4 linked regions of the Homo sapiens genome follow. The protein of the gene in region 1 purifies or fractionates together with the protein of each later gene. This does not show direct contact. Each region holds a gene or a part of one and is shown on either strand. Other genes may lie near its edges.

What was found.
Region 2: the proteins of MTMR7 (region 1) and MTHFD1L purify together in Homo sapiens (affinity purification with mass spectrometry, with the first as the bait; 2 studies listed by BioGRID). This does not show direct contact.
Region 3: the proteins of MTMR7 (region 1) and TMTC3 purify together in Homo sapiens (affinity purification with mass spectrometry, with the first as the bait; one large-scale study listed by BioGRID). This does not show direct contact.
Region 4: the proteins of MTMR7 (region 1) and SOAT1 purify together in Homo sapiens (affinity purification with mass spectrometry, with the first as the bait; one large-scale study listed by BioGRID). This does not show direct contact.

What each region holds. Positions count from the first base shown.
Region 1 is NC_000008.11:17,371,167-17,375,665, forward strand, and holds part of MTMR7 (phosphatidylinositol-3-phosphate phosphatase MTMR7), read right to left. Parts: intron 2,075-4,499; coding exon 1,952-2,074; intron 34-1,951; coding exon 1-33. UniProt on the Homo sapiens protein: Lipid phosphatase that specifically dephosphorylates the D-3 position of phosphatidylinositol 3-phosphate (PtdIns(3)P) and inositol 1,3-bisphosphate (Ins(1,3)P2).
Region 2 is NC_000006.12:150,863,714-150,868,748, reverse strand, and holds the start of MTHFD1L (monofunctional C1-tetrahydrofolate synthase, mitochondrial isoform 2 precursor), read right to left. Parts: upstream 3,048-5,035; 5' UTR 2,927-3,047; coding exon 2,700-2,926; intron 2,417-2,699; exon of another isoform or gene 2,391-2,416; coding exon of another isoform or gene 2,362-2,390; intron 2,303-2,361; exon of another isoform or gene 1,537-2,302; coding exon of another isoform or gene 1,415-1,536; exon of another isoform or gene 1,167-1,414; intron 1-1,166. UniProt on the Homo sapiens protein: May provide the missing metabolic reaction required to link the mitochondria and the cytoplasm in the mammalian model of one-carbon folate metabolism complementing thus the enzymatic activities of MTHFD2.
Region 3 is NC_000012.12:88,190,055-88,194,553, reverse strand, and holds part of TMTC3 (protein O-mannosyl-transferase TMTC3), read right to left. Parts: intron 4,102-4,499; coding exon 3,932-4,101; intron 1,951-3,931; coding exon 1,724-1,950; intron 1-1,723. UniProt on the Homo sapiens protein: Transfers mannosyl residues to the hydroxyl group of serine or threonine residues.
Region 4 is NC_000001.11:179,341,545-179,346,043, reverse strand, and holds part of SOAT1 (sterol O-acyltransferase 1), read right to left. Parts: intron 4,035-4,499; exon of another isoform or gene 3,931-4,034; coding exon 3,852-3,930; intron 3,183-3,851; coding exon 3,101-3,182; intron 2,455-3,100; coding exon 2,409-2,454; intron 1,098-2,408; coding exon 968-1,097; intron 1-967.

The sequences.
Region 1 (4,499 bases):
TTTCTCAATGGTGGAAATCTGACTGTGAAGAATCTAGAACCAAATGTTAATGTGCATAAGCTAAGCACAAATAACTAATGAATACGACAAGGACTAACATTTCTTTGTGGCTCAAAGAAAGACAAGAAACGCTCCCCAACCTCCAGCTAGCTCAACCCTTGCGTTCAGATGACAAGCACTGAGATGTTCCAGGTAAGAACCAACTTCCTAAATTTATAATTTTATTTTTCAATACCAAGCTTCCTGATATCCAGGACAGTTATTTTGAAGTAAACCATTCAGCATATAAATTTGCACAAGTCCAGGTATGGAAACATTTTGGTAGTCAAATATTGAATGCGCTTAATAGCTAAAATTAAATAAGGTCATGAGAAGTTAGTAAAATAAACTTCTGCAGTCAACACAAGTTAGAGATGGCTCCGCTGGGAGGTGCCACCATGCTCCTTAATTCCACATGGAATGTTCGAGTTCTGTATCAACATGGGATTGTTGTTTTCTAAGCTGTTGGTGGTCGGGCAGGCTGCAAAAGAAGGGATTTATTTTATCTTTTTATTTTTTAAATTAATATTTTTATTGCAAATCATAGTTGTACACATTTATGGGCTACAGTGTGATGCTGTGATATATGTACATCATACGGAATGATTAAATCAAGCTAATGAGCATGGCCATCACTTACCTATAGTTTTTTTTTTTTTTTTTTTTTTTTACAGTGAGACCCTTGAAATTTACTCTCATAATTATTTTGAAATATACATTACTATTGAGTATGGTCACCTTGCTGTGCAATAGATTTCCAGACTTTTCCTCCTGTCTTTTGGAAACTTTGTGCCCTTCAATCAATATCTCCTCATTCCCTCCCCCTCCTCTGCACTCCCAGCCTCTGGTAAAACCATCATTCTACTCTCTAAAGAGGAGATTAACTTTAAAGGAAATCATACTGAAGTGCATCTCTGGTGTTACAGGAGGGTCTATGCTCAGTCTTCAATAGCAGCATTTTAATCTTTAAGTTTCCCCTCCACTAAGAAGTGCCTGCCACCTTCTGCTAAAAATGTACCACTGTGCACGAAATACAGCAAAGGGAAATCTACAATTCAGGGATGTCATGATTGGGTTGCTGAAAGAATAATAAGGCCACACACGGTGGCTCATGCCTGTAATCCCAGTACTTTGGAAGGCCAAGGTGGGCAGATCACTTGAGGTCAGGTCAGGAGTTTGAGGCCAGCCTGGACAACATAGTGAAACCCTGCCTCTACTAAAAACACAAAAAAGTCAGCCAGGCGTGGTGGCGCGTGACTGTAGTCCCAGCTACTCAGGAGGCTGAGGCAGGAGAATCACTTGAACCCAGGAGGCAGAGGCTGCAGTGAGCTGAGATCGCATCACTGCACTCCAGCCTGGGCAACAGAGTAAGACTCCATCTCAAAAATAATATTAATAATAATAATTATTATTATTTAGTGATGTTCAAATATCTAATGGTTTCATTAATAAGTAGGAGAAATACCTGATGATGAAGCTCCTCTAGATTTTCTTTCTTTTTAAAATTATCAGAAAAGTAGAGGCAATGTAATAAAATGACCAAATGGCTGCATTACAGGACCCTGCAAATAGAGACTATTGCAAATGGAGCACTGGAGGATGACAATGCTGAATCTGGCCTACTGACATTATTGAATCTCTCCTTGACAGCTGTGACAGGAAGCACTTGTATCTTCTGGCTAGTTCTAAGTCTCTCTTCACTGATGTTCAAATAATTCATGTTTAAAATGAATAGTCGATCAAGTAGATACGACTGCACAGAAAAAGTCCAAACACACATTCCAGAAACAGTTCCCCAACATCCAGGCACAAAAGCCCACCCATCTCACCCTGAGGAAAAATGAATGGAGGGCAAACACTTTTTGCTTCAAACAACGCAAAACAAGGAAAGCTAAAAATAAAGAAAGCATACCCATGTTTCTTTTCTTGGGTCAGGTGAATTTTCCACGAATATGACATGGGTAGCCGTCAAATACAAAGTACCTAGAGCTGCTTTTTTAGGAGACACTCGATCTACCAAGCGGACATTTTCAACCTAGAGAAATCGGCATGATGAAAAGAGTTACCGTAAAGCAGAAGAGCAATTCACGAAATAAATGATAACAGGGTAAACTCACACTTACTCCAAAATACAATTTTTTGAGAATTCCCCCAATAATAAAAACCAAAAACTTCCCCTTAAGTTAATCGGATCTCAGAGTAGGATTGTGTATATTAAAAGATGAACATTCACCAGTTACGAAAATATGAGTTTAAAGGTACCACAAAAGATGTGTAGATCCTATTAAGAATACCCTCTCTGGGTTTTACAATGGTCAACGCTTTCATTTCATTATAATTATATTACATTTCTAATTTAAAGCAGAAAGTGTATGTGTTAATGTTCTGAGTTTACACTATGTATCAATTACATTCTATGAAAAAGAAAAAAGCACATTTTCCTATGTGTTTCTAGCTTGTAGAAATGGCCTTAAGGCTCTTTGCTTCCATACAAACTAGTAGCAAGTATAAACATACATACGGGAGAAAAAAGTATCAGAGAAATGTGGAAAACATACCATCTCAAGATCCTTACATTCATTTATAACAAAATCTTCCTAATGAATGGCATTATCACCACTCAGCTAAAATCCAAACTGCTAGAAGAGATTTCTGGAAACAATTTTTACAAAGCATACCTCTCTCATATGCAGACCAATTTTAAGGACATGTGCACTGAGATCATCCTAACATGAAATGTAATGGAAATGACAAGACAATCTCTACAGAGCGAGAGAAAACTGAAGCAATGGTAATTCTAGTAAGACACAGCCACCATAACCACCAGAGGAACATTCCTGTAATGACCACAGCGCACAGCAATCCTACCACTGCCAAGGATCAACCACCTGCAGAGAAACACTGACTCATCCCTCAAGCCAAAATGGTATTTGCTTCCATGCAGCTTAGGAACTAACGCATTGTATTCGCTCCATTCTTCAGTTTAAATAGAAGCTGTGGGCCGGTGCAGTGCCTCACATCTGTAATCCCAGCACTTTGGGAAGCCGAGGCGAGTGGATCACCTGAGGTGAGGAGTTCAAGACCAGCCTGGCCAACGTGGTGAAATCCCACGTCTCTACTAAAAATACAAAAATTGGCCGGGAGCGGTGGCTCACGCCTGTAATCCCAGCACTTTGGGAGGCCGAGGCAGGTGGATCACGAGGTAAAGAGATCGAGACCATCCTGGCCAACATGGTGAAACCCTGTATCTACTAAAAATACAGAAATTAGCCGGGTGTGTTGGTGGGTGCCTGTAGTCCCAGCTACTCAGGAGTATGAGGCAGGAGAATCGCTTGAACCCAGGAGGCGGAGGTTGCAGTGCGCTGAGATTGCGCCACCGTACCGTAGCCTGGCGACAGAGTGAGACTCCATCTCAAAATAAATAAATAAATAAATAAAATAAAATAAAAGCATAAAAACTAGCCTGGGGTGGTAGCAGGTGCCTGCAATCCCAGCTACTCGGGAGGCTGAGGCAGGAAAATCACTTGAACCCTGGAGGCAGAGGTTGCAGTGAGCCAAGATCGTGCCACTGAACTCCAGCCTGGGTGACAGAGTGAGACTCCATCTCAAAAAAAATAAATAGGCCAGGCACGGTGGCTCACGCCTGTAATCCCAGCACTTTGATCATGAGGTCGGGAGTTCAAGACCAGCCTGGCCAACATGGTGAAACCCCGTCTCTACTAAAAATACAAAAATTAGCCAGGCGTGGTGCCCGGCACCTATAATCCCATCCACTCGGAAGGCTGCGGCAGGATAACTGCTTACAACTGGAAGGCAGAGGTTGCAGTGAGCCGAGATCGCACCACTGCACCCCAGTCTGGGCAACAAGAGCAAAACTCCTTCTCAAAAATGAATAAATAATAGGAGGTGTGGTCCTGATCTAGTTTGGGAGTCTCAGACTTCCCATCTACTCCAAGGGAGAGCCAGGGGAGTAGCAGACCTCGTGAACATTCCTCAAAACACCAAGAGCAAACAGGACCCAAGACCTCCCATTGCCTCAGTCTCCTCTAAGCCCTTAGAGCCAAGCCAGCCCTCTAGGAGTAGCTCTAGAGGGTCCCATCTCACTTCCTCCCAGTTTTCAGAGATCTACTGAGGTCAATAAAGAATTAGGTATTATAAATATCTGTACTTATACAATTTACTCTGGAGCATTGTGAAATTCCTGAGGACTTGTGAAAGTCTATGTATGTTAAAGGCATACATTCGACAACAGTGCCCTTCACCTACTAGCTTATGTTTTTTTTTTTTTTTTACAAGAATTCTTTTGTTACTGATATGCTGCACATTCTTTTGTATGGTTATCCATCATGGTGTATTTTTTGTGAATGGTCTTCATATCACTGGTTTACTTTGCTACTGGGTGATCAGCATTTCTTACATATTTATAAGACCTGTTTATACAGTAAGGCTAGTAGCCCAAG
Region 2 (5,035 bases), on another chromosome or scaffold:
CTACTAATAATTTTGATTTGCCTCTAGGATCACTAAACCTAAAATATTTACTATCTGGCCCATTATATATAAAACGTCTGTGGACCCCTGGCTTAGTGAATTGTAAAAATATTGCTGGGCATGGTAGCTCACACCTGTAATCCCAGCACTTTGGGAGGCTGAGGCAGGCAGATCACGAGGTCAGGAGTTTGAGACCAGCCTGGCCAACATGGTGAAACCCCGTCTCTACTAAAAACACAAAATAAGCCAGGCGTGGTAGTGCGAGCCTGTAATCCCAGCTACTCAGGAGGCTGAGGCAGGGGAATCGCTTGAACCCGGGAGGCGGAGGTTGCAGTGAGCCGAGATCCCGCCACTGCACTCCAACCTGTGCGACAGAGTGAGATTCCGTCTCAAAAAAAAAAAAAAAAAATTAATAGCCACCATTTGTTGAGGGACTTGTCTTGTATGTGACAGTCCTGGGCTATGTATTTTGCATGTGTCCTCTCACATAATTGTTTCCATAACCCCTTGAGGTAAGTACTGTTACTCCTCCCATTTTCCTGAAGGAATTGAGTTTGGAGAACCCAGTGCAGGCCCTAAAGCCCCCTACTAACCTCTTTACTCATCTCTAAGGCAGTCATGGCTTTAAACCTAAAAGTATGCATGAATAGCCCAGGCGCGGTGGGTCACGCCTGTAATCCCAACACTTTGGGAGGCCAAGGCAGTCGGATCACCTGAGGTCAGGAGTTCAAGACCAGCCTGGCCAACATGGTGAGACATCCTGTCTTTACTCAAAATACAAAAATTAGCCGGGCGTGGTGGCGTGCTCCTGTAATCCCAGCTACTCGGGAGGCTGAGGCAGGGGAATCGCCTGAACCTGGGAGGCAGAGGTTGCAGGGAGCCAAGATCGTGCCATTGCACTCCAGCCTGAGTGACAGAGCAAGACTCCGTCTCAAAAAAAAAAAAAAAAAAAAAGAATATGTATGAATAAAACCCACAGATGACCCCAAATCTTGAAGCATTCCTTCTGTAACCATTTCACAAGTGCTTATTACATGCTGGGCACTCTCTCCAGGACCTAGGATATAGCACCGAAGAGACGGCTGTCTCATGAAGCTCATATTCCAGGTGGGTGAGACAGACAAGAAATGAGCAAAGAAGGAAGTTTCAGGTAATAATCAGTTTACCTAGAAAATAAAACAGCATGACGGGAGAAGTTTTTTTGCCGCCTATCCTGGCTTCAGACTCTAACCGGTAAGATGAGTCTCAGCAACGTGCAGGTTAAAACCTAATGACCTGACGTGTAATTAATCCCAGCGCTTTTGGGGGCAGGGATGATGGCTTGCGCCCAGGAGTTCCAGACCAGCCTGGTAACAGAGTGGTGCTCTGTCTCTATGAAAATAAAATAAAATAATCCGGGCATGGTAGCGCACACCTGTGGTCCCAGTTACACTGGAGGCTAAGGCGGGAGAATCGCTTGAGCCCAGGAGGCGGAGGCTGCATTGAGCCGAGATGGCACCACTGAACTCCAGCCTGAGCAACAAAGCGAGACTCCATTTCTAAAAGAAAAAGAAGACAGAGAACAAGAAAAACTAAATAAATGGCCCCTTAAAATCATCCGCCACATAATAAAGAGCCTAGGAAACGTATTTTACTGAGATGGGAGAAGGGGAGTGGGGAGGAAAATGGGAGAGCAGAGGGAGGAAGGAAAGGCAGAGAGAAAGGCAAGCAGGCAATGACTAAGAAAGAAGGCTAGAAGGAAAGGGAAGAGGATGTGAATGGAGGAGGTGGTCCGCTGGCCGGGGAAACCGCATCCTGGAACTCGTTCCTAATCCCAGTTCCGAGGGAGGCGGAAGGGGCTTTCTTGCCACCCCCAAGTTGTCCCGAAGGGCTCGCCCTGCAAGGCCCGAGACCCGTGCGCCCCTCTGGGCGAGGGCGGGGAAGGCTGGAGCCCAGGGGCGGGGACCGGGACGGGAAAGGCCGGGCCCGGGGCTCCCAGTTCGCTCTGGGCCCGCAGAAAACCCTGCAAACCCAGCTGCGCGGGGACTCCGTGGGCGCTGCGCGGCGAAGCTGGAAACCAGCGCTGAGACCTCTCGGATTCCCCCCGGCGGCTGTCCCGGGGGCCCGGCTCCACCTTTGCCGTTCCGGGAAAAGCGGACGTCAGCCACAGACCCCAGCCCAGCAGGAGGGGCCGCGCGCGGGGAAGGGCGCACAACACCAGGGAGCTTCGCGCGGGCGGCGCTGGGCCCGAGCCCGCCTCTCCCGAGCTCCGCTTGCCCTTCCCGAACCCCGGGCCAGCCGGCGCGCCGAGCCGCAGCCCCGCCCTCCTCCTGCTCCTCGCCCCCTCCCCTGGTTTCCGCCCCAGCCGCACCGCCCCTTTACCGTCTGGGTCGCGCCCGGCGCGATTGCATCAGAGCCGGCGGCCGGCTGCGCACGTGGAGCCGGGCGTGCGGTCCATGCCGCTAGGCGCCCATTGGAGATGCCCACGCCCACCTGCGCTGCGGGCCCGGTCGGGTACTGGATCCCCCGTTCTCCGCCAGCGCTCCCGGCCGCAGTGCCCAAGCCCGCGTTTCCCGACACACCGCCCGGCCCCCCTAATGAGTTGGCACCAAACACTCGCAGCCCCGCGCCCCGCTCCCCACGGCGGTCCCGGGCGCTCCGCCCCTGGGTCGGGGCCACAGCCGCTGGAGACCTGGGCCAGGGCCAGACCCGACACTCACCTGACGATGGAGTCCCGCGCCGCGGGCGTTCGGCCGCCGGGGCTGCAGCTGCTCCGGGCCTGGCCATCCTGCGGCCGCCGCTGTCCAAGCAGGCCCTCCCGGCCACCGCCGCCGCCTCCGCCGCCGCCGCTGCTAGCGCGACAGGGCACACGGAGGCGGCGCGGAGGGCCCGGGGGCTGGGGCGGGCGGCGGAGCTGGCGCAGGACGAGCGGCAGACGCGTGCCCATGGCGCGGGACGGCTGGTTCTCAGGGGACACGGAGCTGCGGCTGCCGAGGGCGGCGGGGCGCGTGCCAGGGGAGCAGGCGGCGGCGGCGGCGGCGGCGGCGGGAAGGACCTGGCGCTTCCTCCTCGTCCCAGGGGCCCCTAGGGGGCACTGCACCCGGCGGCCGTGACGTGCGGAGGGCGGGGGCCTGCGAGCCGCCGGCCGGGATGTCACGGCTTTGGGCACTTTGGTTTGGTAAGCTGTACCAGACAGAGGGTGGGGTGCGGAGTGGGACTCAGACTCTGCCCTGAGACTCAGCCTCCCTCCCTTCAGCCTGAAAGGCCGAGGTGACCCTTGGTACTCAGGGCGCCAAGTTTAGACGGGAGGGCTTGGATTTGCTGTACTGGAGGTGGCCTGAGGATAAGAGGCTTTGTAACCTTAGGCAGGGGCACTTAATCTCGGTGAGCTTGCGGGGTCTTCGTCAGTACCACAGAGATAACAATGCTCTTCTTAAAACCTTAAAAGGATTTTATAGTCCTGATTGGTTCCAGGGCCCCTCCAGGGGACCCACGTCCACAAATGCTCAAGTCCTTGGTAAAAAAAAAAAAAAAAAAAAGTGTTTGCATATCACCTACACACATCTTCCCATCATAAACTTTAGGTCATCTCCACATTCCCTAAGTCCTCACCTAACATCGTGGAGGGGTTCTTGGAAACTGAAACTTTAAGCCAAATGACTGTAAGGAAAACAGTTTGACCACAGGCTAATTGATATGAGTGAAGTTCCTACAACATATCTGTGGTCACAAAATCGCCCCTAAACTTCGAAATAAAGACCAAAACACTTCTAATATTAAACATTGAAATAAGTGTGAGCCATGCATATATTTAAGGAAGATTTTTAGCTCACGCCTATAATCCCAACACTTTGGGAGGCTGAGGTGGGCAGATCACGTGAGGCCAGAAGTTCAAGACCAGCTTGGCCAACATGGCGAAACCCCATCTCTACTAAAAATACAGAAAATTGGCTGGGTGTGGTGGCGCGTGCCTGTATTCTCAGCTACTCGGGAGGCTGAGGCAGGAGAATCGCTTGAACCCAGGAGCCAGAGGTTGCAGTGAGCCGAGATCATGTCACTGTACTCTAGCCTGGGCGACAGAGCACAGCTCTGTCTCAAAGAAAAAGTTTTTTTTAAACACCCCCTATCCCTCTCGCTTAGAGAAAAATAAAGATTAATAAAAGTGAGATCATTTTTACCGGCTTATTCCAACTCAGGGCACCTCACAGGGTGTGCTCACACACACCCACACTCACACTCGGATCGTGTAGATGCACCAATTTACCTAAAGTGCACTGCACGGCTTTGGGATGTGACAGGACACCAGAAGACAGAGAAAATCCACACAGACATGGATAAAACGTGACAGTGGACCCAGCCAGAAATCTATTTTTTTCTCATCATTATAAGAAAACCACTGAGCAAAATGATGAAATGATGTTATTCCAGGACCTGCTGTACTTATAATACCTAATACAATGTAAATGCTATGTAAATAGATATTACACTGTACTTTTTTATTTCTATGATTTTTTATTATTTTTTGTTATTGTAATTTTTTCAAATACTTTCAGTCCCAGGTTGATTGAGGATACAGAGGGCTGACCATAAGTTCCAAGTAAAGTGGATATCAGATTGTAATTTTATGATTCCCAAGTGAGGGTCAGATTGTTAACTTTATATTTTTACAACCTTATACCCTTATAATTCCCAGATAAGGTGGGAATAAAACTAGTCCAAGTTACAGAGATTGGTTTTCCATTAGCCGAGCACCATACTGGGACAGTGCTGGAAGGACCCTTCATACAATCCTAACAAAAGTAGGGAATTGAGAGCTATTGTCTTGACCTTCAACCTTTGGAAACTGGGGTCCAGAGAGGCCCATCTGTTTACTGGCAGAGCTGGGAGATTGAGGCTGCAATGAGCTGTGAGCGTGTCACTGCACTCCAACCTGGGCAACAGAGTGAGACCCTGTCTCAAAAAAAAAAAAAAAAAAAAAAAAAGGCTTCCTGAAGAAAGTGAAAGAGGTGGCAGCTGGAGGCAAGACCTTAGCAGTTGAGCTAAGGGAAGGTCAGCT
Region 3 (4,499 bases), on another chromosome or scaffold:
AAGGAAAATAGAGAATTCAGAAAAAGAAGCATGGGATTTGCCAACAAAGACATGTATTCAATCTTGATTCTGATAACATTATGACTTTATACACTGAACATGTTACTTAACTTCTCTGGGTTAACTGAGTTTTCTAATAATTGTATGTTGTATATCGAAAAAATGTTCAGCAAATAGTAACTATTACTGGGTAGAAAAAAGCTTCAGAATGACTGTATCACATTTTAAAAAATGTTACTTCAAAGTTTTAGGAATGTTTCGAGGACAAAAACATACCATTAAATATAGGGCTATAAAATTAGGATTTAGGAAACATGTATCTTCTTTTTTTTGAGACAGGGTCTCACTATGTCACTCAGGCTGGAGGGCAGTGCTGTGTCCACAGGTCACTGTAACCTCAAACTCCTGGGCTCAAGCAATCCTCCCACCTTGGCTTCCCGAGTAGCTGGGACTACAGGCATGTGCCATCATTTCTTGCTGATTTTAAAATTTTTTGTGGAGACAGAGTTTTACTATGTTGCCTAGGCTATTCTCAAACTCTTGGCCTCTAGTGATCCTCCCCACCCTGGCCTCCCTAAGTGTTAGGATTACAGGCATCAGCCACTGCCTGGCAGGAAACAAATCTCCATTGAGATAATTTCTATTGCAAAAAAAAAGCCAAAAAAACAAAAAAGTTCAAGTTCTACAATTACAAACCTTATAGTACAATCTTGTGTCGAATAATGAGCATCCTTCATGATTATCAAGGTAGAAAACCTTACAAAAATATTAGCTTTTCTCCAAATTTCTACTTTTTTGGACACCAGGCATAAAGACTTCTCTCTATTCTTTTATTTGGCAGCACGATGGATAAAGAAAATTTGAAAATAAATCAGGAGGCTTCAGTTCTTGTCTTGGGTTACCTATTTAGCCATATGACTTTGGGGCAGTCATAAAATCTATTTGGTTTTCACTCTACTAAATAGAAGACTGGCAAATGCAAACTCAAAGGTCCTCTTTAGCTCTAAAATACTACGACTTTATGATTCTTTCATATTTTACAAAAGTTTTACGAAATGTATCTAAGAAATAACTAAACATTATAATAGATTTTTCTAATTTATAAATTAAAAAGATTATAAATCATATACACTATCTTATGAGGCAGAACTGAAATTCCTATATAAAATATGGATGAAGGATCCAGATTTACTGTGGTTAATAATTTAGTTTTGCTAAATTATAGGAAATATAAAAAATTACAACATCTCAGAAAACGTAGTAAAACTGGATATAAAATGGTGCCAAAAGTATTTGCTCTTATGAATCAAAAGAAAATAAAATGCTATTTTTTTGAAAACATATGCTCTTGGCTCCTCACAGCCAATTATGTAAAAAATTTCACAAGTTCATATTATTTGGAGAGTTTATATATAAGTTACATTATGTTTATGTATATAAAATGACAAAATAGTTAATGTTGCTTAATAGACTGCCTGAAAAATTAGTCTTAACACATGCCAGAAGAATTAAAAATCAGTATTATCATATGTTAGAATGCATGTTACTTGAAAATAGTTTACTTCAAGTATTTTAAATATTCTTTCTATAAATCAGTTAAGCACAGTATTGCTATAAACTGTCAATACATAAAGTGTTTGCTATGGGTAATAAAGTTAAATTAAGGTCTTATTATATTATAAACTACAATTTATATAAACAGAAATATTTTGAGAAAACATACCTGATTCTTGCATTACTATAGCAGAGTTGAATAATGCTAGTTTATGCTTTGGATTTAGTTCCAGAGCACGATTAAAGTTTTTTAGGGCTTCATTTGGTTCTTTAAGTTCAATATGTACAATTGCCAAGTTGTACCAAAGATCTGCATTATTTCTGTCCAGCTCTAGTGCTTTAAGATATGCTTCCTTTGCTTTAAGAGGTTTATTCATTTTTAAAAGCAATTCTCCTCTGTGGAAAAATCAAACACAAGCTTTACTTACAACATTACCATCTCAGTTTGTAGATACAATTTTTGCCAAGTTTTAAGCCTTTCCACATACAGCTTTTTTTTCTCTTAACTCAGACTCTTAAAAAACTCTCTTTCGAAAACAACTCTTTGAAACTGTCCTCAAATCTGAACTCCTTAGTTCAGTATATTTGGCTTGATATATTTTCAAATATTATTTAAGAAGAAAAAAATTATGCCTGATTTCAGAGGGCAACCTATCAGGAGGAATCCAGGAAGGAGGACAGAGCAAATATATTCTTTGACTTTATCTTAAAAAGGAGACAGACTAAACTGCATCAGAAAAAGGGCAGCTAGCCAGAGTGAAAGATTAATGAATTTGTCAGGTGACAAAATAACAGCATTAGAAGAAAAAAATGACATATAGTAGTGGTAAGAGAAATTCCAATATTTGAATGTATAATAGAAGGCTCACTATGCAAAAAACCAAAATATTAAAAATCTGTAACCCCTTCTTATATTAATTTAGTCCTCATCAATGTCTTCTTATAATACGACCATTCTTAAAAAAAAAAAAGAAAAAAAAAAAAAGAAAAATGCTGGGCATGGTGGCTCGTTCCTGTAATCCCAGCACTTTGGGAGGCTGAGGTGGGCAGATCACTTGAGGTCAGGAGTTGGAGACCAGCTGACCAACATGGCAAAACTCTGTCTCTACTAAAAATACAGAAATTTGCCAGGCATGGTGGCACGCGCCTGTAGTCCCAGCTAATAGTGAGGCTGAGGAACAAGAATTACTTGAACCCAGGAGGCAGAGGTAGCAGTTAGCCGAGATCACACCACTGCACTCCAGCCTGGGTAACAATGTGAGACTCTGTCACAAACAAACAAACAAACAGAAAAAGGACTAAAAAAAAGCTGAACAGGTAGAGTGGGAGGGATTAATCTGACCTGTAGATAACTTTGAGGAACACACTTAGAATTGAGGACCAGTTAAGAAACCATTGTATAAATCTTTCTAGTGTGGTTCTATTTTCTGTTAGAAAATTTTAAAAAGTAATTTTGCTTAAAGAATTATTTTTACATATGTACAAATAATATTTAAGTAGTGATATGAGAGTTGTTCTTATAATACTACTCTTTCCTATAGTATCAGCACAGAAATAAAAGGAACAACAATTAATATTCTCATTAAAACCACTTCTAGAATGAATGTTTGTCCAAAATATTATTTTTTTAATGTAGAGATTGTTGAATAGTTCTTTATGAATTAATACATGACAGGTGTTATTTATAGATACAACCCTGCTAATAAACTCAATAGGCACGGCGGAACAAAGAAAACCCCAACTTACAAACAGATTTTATCTCAAAAACTTAAATTCAGAATGTACTTTCCCCAAAGGAAAAAATGTTACAAATTACTATTAGTTTTCTGGACCAGGCTACAAAACGAAGTTTAAAAACACATTTTTCCTCAAAAGTAATACAAATGATAACACATACATGAGAAAATAAATGAAGTTTTAACATGTGGTGCCAGAAAACTTTTTTTTTTGCTGAGAACCAAGATGTTTTCTTTGTGTCAAAGGCATCAATAACCAATCAACTCTAAAAACAAGAAAGTTCCTGAGAGTTTGATATTAGAAGTAACTATTATAAAATGTAAGTTTCAAGTTTTAATTTAAATAGGAAAAGAACAATTTTGGTGATGGGAAGAAAATGCAACTAAGACAGAGCTGCTTCTACCCTTTCCTTAATACAAAACCTAAGTTGGCTATTACAAGTTAGGGATTCCCCTTGTTAATTTCAAATCAATAAAATCTGACTGTCAGTCTAAAAAGTTATGCTCTTCTATGCACTTGGTTGCTAAGTAAGATTATTAAAAACATAATTTTTTTTCAAAAAAAACCAATTCATTCAAAATGTACATGGAGATGCAGTTTCAATATTCCATAATGATAGCTTAAAGTTGAACTGGGATACCTGCTAATGTAAGCCTGCTTGAAGTCGGGCCTCATGCTTATTGCTTGACGGTACAGCTGATCTGCTTCTTCCAGTCGGGACTCATTTGCTCGGATCAGGTTAGCCAGATTGATATAAACATTTAGGTGGTTAGGGGCAATTCTGGCTGCATATTTTTTACCAGGAATAATCTGTTTAGAAGAAAAGGCATTTTCATGATTTGATATTTCAGTATCAAAAATCAAAAGTACATATTCCTATTGGCTAATTCAAAATAACTCAGAACATACTGTAAAAAATACACTGGACTGAGAGATCAGGGTTCTACTCCTGTTTTGACTAAACCTAAGATACCTTGACTTCTAAAAGTTCTGATTTGTTTGACTTCAGAAAAAGACAGATACAAATAAAAAGCTAATAATCCACTGAGGTGGCATGAATGAAAAAATATATCCTTAATGCCACAAAGTACTATTTTATTTACATTTTTGAGGATACTGTAAGTAAAATATTTTTATTCACATTTTTGTGTGTGTTTTCTTTTACATTTTTATTATTTATTTTTAACAAAGTGGTAAAATTAGTGGCA
Region 4 (4,499 bases), on another chromosome or scaffold:
AAAAGTAAGGGAAACTATAAAAGCTCCCAGACTGTAAAGATAATACATCTCTTGTTCACTTCTGAGTCCTCTGCACCTGGCATAGTACTAGGTACTCATATATCTCTATAATAGACAAAAAAATGCAATAAATATATTTAAGAAATCAAGGTATGGTCGGAAAGACAGGAGGAAAATAAGAAATAGTGGCAAAAGGCCAAGCATGGTGGCTCAAGCCTGTAACCCCAGCACTTTGAGAGGCTGAGACAGGAGGATAACTTGAGCCCAGGAGTTTGAGAATGGCCTGGGCAACATAGGGAGACCCCGTCTCTCCAAAAAATAAAAACTTAGCCAGGCATGGTGGCATGCACCTGTAGTCCCAGCTACTGAGGCGAGAGGATCACTCGAGCCCCAGAGGTCGAGGCTAGTAAGCCATGATGACACCACTGCATTCAGACTGGGTGACAAAGAGAGACCCGATTTCAAAAAAAAAAAAGGCAAGAAAACAGTGACAAGAGAGATTTAAAAATGTGGTCAGCAGCACCCAATGCTTCATGGAGGTCAACTTGGATAAGGGGTAAAGTACATCTTAATCCATCCACTGGATTAGAATATGGATTACTAGTAATTTCTACAAGTAATTTCTACAAGTTACTAGTAATTTCAACAAGGGGCATTTAAGTGGCTTGGTGGAATCAGGAGCAAGATTACAATGAACTTAATAGCGAACAGGAAGACACAGCATGAATGTGGACTGTCCACTGTCAGAGAAAGGCACAACTTGAGTGAAAGCCATAAGATGAAAGACTGACCTGAGACTGGATGAAGGATACTTCATTTATAAAGTAGATGCAAAAGAGGTCAAGATGGGCATAGATGTATAGAAGTTTAGATGAAAAAGTAGGCAAAGCAAAGGTGCTCATAGGCAATAGCTTTCTATTTACCTCGTGAATTTATGCATGACCAAATTAACAAGTACCCATGTTACCTGGCAAGATGGAGTTAAATACACATAGGACCAGAACACGAGCGCTGAAGGGCTCCTGTTTGATATTCCGAAACAAGGGGGCACAAAGCCTTTCAAAGATGTAGTACACATAGAAAAAGCAACCAAAGACCTGGAACATAACAGAGACAGAATTATAATAACGATGGCTTAATAAGATGGAAGGCGATTTTTTTCTCTCCAAAAGAAAGTACAGATGTGACCCTTACAGTAATGTTCGCATATGTATTCCATTTAACACTAGTATAGAAGACTGCTATAATCCTTCAGGGAGATTACTCAAGCCTAGTTTCTACCATCACTTTTCCTAACCCTTTACCAAATGATATTTTTAGAAGAGCTTACTCTTGGAACCTGTTTTCCTGCTGCTTAAAACCCGTAACATGGCCGGGCACAGTGGCTCACGCTTGTAATCCCAGCACTTTGGGAGGCTGAGGCGGGTGGATGACTTGAGGTCAGAGTTCGAGACCAGCCTGGCCAACATGGTGAAACCCCATCTGTACTAAAAATACAAAAATTAGCCAGGCGCAGTGGTGGGCACCTGTAATCCCAGCTACTCAGGAGGCTGATGCAGGAGAATCGTTTGAACACAGGAGGTAGAGGTTGCAGTGAGCCAAGACTGCATCACTGCACTCCAGCATCGGTAACAGAGCAGGACTCCTTCTCAAAAAAAAAAAAAAAAAAAAAAAAAAAAAAAAAAAAAAACCCCTTAATGAAAGAACTTACTTCATAAATGGGCATTTGATTGAGACACTAATTTAAAATGGGATCTTCCAGGATTAATGATTCTGATGGAGGTGGGAGGAGGAATGGGTAAGAGTCAGACTATACCCACATACATATATACCTCCCCCAAAAACAGGAAGGAAGGGGGAAATTAATGCTTACTGAAATAACCAATTAGAATTACTTTATAAATAATACATTCTTTTTTTTTTTAGATGGAGTCTTGCTCTGTCGCCCAGGCTGGAGTGCAGAGGAGTGATCTCAGCTCACTGTAACCTCCATATCCCAGGTTCAAGCAATTCTCCTGCCTCAGCCTCCTGAGTAGCTGAGATTACAGGTACGTGCCTCCACGCCAGGCTAATTTTTGTATTTTTAGTAGAGATGGGGTTTCACCATGTTGGCCAGGCTGGTCTTGAACTCCTGACCTCGCGATCTGCCCACCTAGGCCTCCCAAAGTGCTGGGATTACAGGCGCAAGCCACTGCGCCCAGCCTAATATATTCTTTTATTAAAGAAAATTACTTTTGATGTTGGCAAAACAAACACCATTTACCGTACTGGAAATAGTTTAAAAGACTGCATAATGTCAACAGAAAGCATTCTTAGCTCCCAATTAGATTTAACTAGATTATATTATTATCATAAATATGAATCCCCATCCCCTAATCAACATACCTTAGGCAGTTACAAAAACTTACCTGTGCAAACTTCATAGCGACATAACCCCATCTTACAGTGGGATTCCTGAAAAAGAAAGAAACAAAAATAAGGTTTCTAAATAAAGTAATTGAACTTGAATAAAGACCCTCACAATTAATGTTTTTTGGTCAGGCGCGGTGGCTCACACCTGTAATCCAAGCACTTTGGAAGGCAGTGACCAGGAGTTCGAGACCAGCCTGGCCAATATGGTGAAACCCCGTCTCTAATAAAAATACAAAAAAACCAACCGGGCGTGGTGGCACACACCTGTAATGCCAGCTACTTGGGATGCTGAGGCAGGAGAATCACTTGAACCCAGGAGGCAGAGGTTGCAGGGAGCCGACATAGCACCACTGCACTCCTGGGTGACAGAGCAAGACTCCCATCTCAGAAAAAACTAAAATTAATTAATTAATAAAAAATAAATTAAAAATAATAAAAATAAATAAAAATTAATTAATTCAGAACATCATTTATGACCATATGAAATACTTTATAATTCTGTCAAGAATTACTATAATCAAATTAGACTTCCCTACTCACCATTTGAGGCTTCTCAGGTCAGACAGAAAATGAAAACTCATTCTATATTTTCTATGTCCCTACATGAACTGGCCCCTGTTTACCTATCCCACCTCACTCATGCCACACTTTTGGTGTTTACCACATTTCTGGTTCACAGTACCATTACCTGGGATAGCTGTCACGGTAGATAAGGGTAGGAGCAAATAAGAAGTACAAATACTGGTTGACTGTAGGTATTGGAACAGTGCCTAGAAAAGGAAAACTATAGTTAGAGCAAAGGCTCTTTGATTTTTCACAGCAAAAATACAGGGGGGAATATAAGGAAGCACAGAACAGGGAAGAATAAAATGACTTATCAGCTCATGTTCTTTTTTCCTGATCTCCGGAATGACTTCTTATTCTTGCACGAATTGAATATTACCAATCTCTTTAAACCAAGTTATTCCTGTGACTGAGATAACTTCTAGAGTGTGAAGCAACAATTTGCAAAGAATAGGCAGGCACAGGTGTAATGAGGCTATTAACATTCCATAAAAATAATGCAAAGTTGCAAAAGATAATCAATTTTTTAAAATTGTAGGTTCAAGGGCAAAGCCGGAATAGTCAGGAAACAATGAAGTGGTCCTCAAAATCAATATGGATAATATATATTTGAAATAAAACACAATCTCTACATTATATAATGTGACATCCCAGAAAACAACAAAGGGTGAAATATCCAGCCAATAATCCTTTAAACTAATGAAATTACACAAAGAAAAGAAAAGAAAAAGAGAGAGAGAGAGAAAGAGAAAGAGAAAAAGAGAGAGGGAGGGAGGGAAGGAAAGAAGGAAAGAAGGGAAGGGAAGGGAAGGGAATGGGGTGGGGGGAGAGGAGGGGAGGGGAGGAAGAAATAATGAACAAAAGAAATTACATACTTGATTTCTCCTTAGCTGAATTTAGTACCCGAGGCACGTTCTCTCTGACAAATGAGTGGGCCTTCATTACAAAACGAATCTACAAAAGCAGGAGGAAAAAGATGTCTCTTCAAAGAAAGTCTCCTGCAAGTGTCCTTTCCATTAGTCAAATGCATTATAGATAGCCAGTAAAGTCAGAAAATCCTGATAAGTGTATAAACAAATTAAAATAAAACCTTTATTATATAGTTACATGACAAAACAATGAATCTGACATTTCAAAAGTGAAGTTTTTAATTATGAAAATATTTTATAATTTAAATGACTTTTACAAAAAGTATTCAGAAACAAAATCTTGATGCATCAAAAATAATTCAATGTGGCCGGGCGCGGTGGCTTACGCCTGTAATCTCAGCACTTTGGGAGGCCGAGGCAGGCGGATCGTAAGGTCAGGAGTTTGAGACCAGTCTAGCCAATATGGTGAAACCCCATCTCTACTAAAAATACAAAAATTAGCCGGGTGTGGTGGCAGGCGCCTGCAGTCCCAGCCACTTGGGAGGCTGAGGCAGAAGAATCACTTGAACCTGGGAGGCAGGGGTTGCAGTGAGCCGAGATGGTGCCACTGCACTCCAGCCTAGGTGACAGAGCGAGACTCTGTCTCAAAAAAAA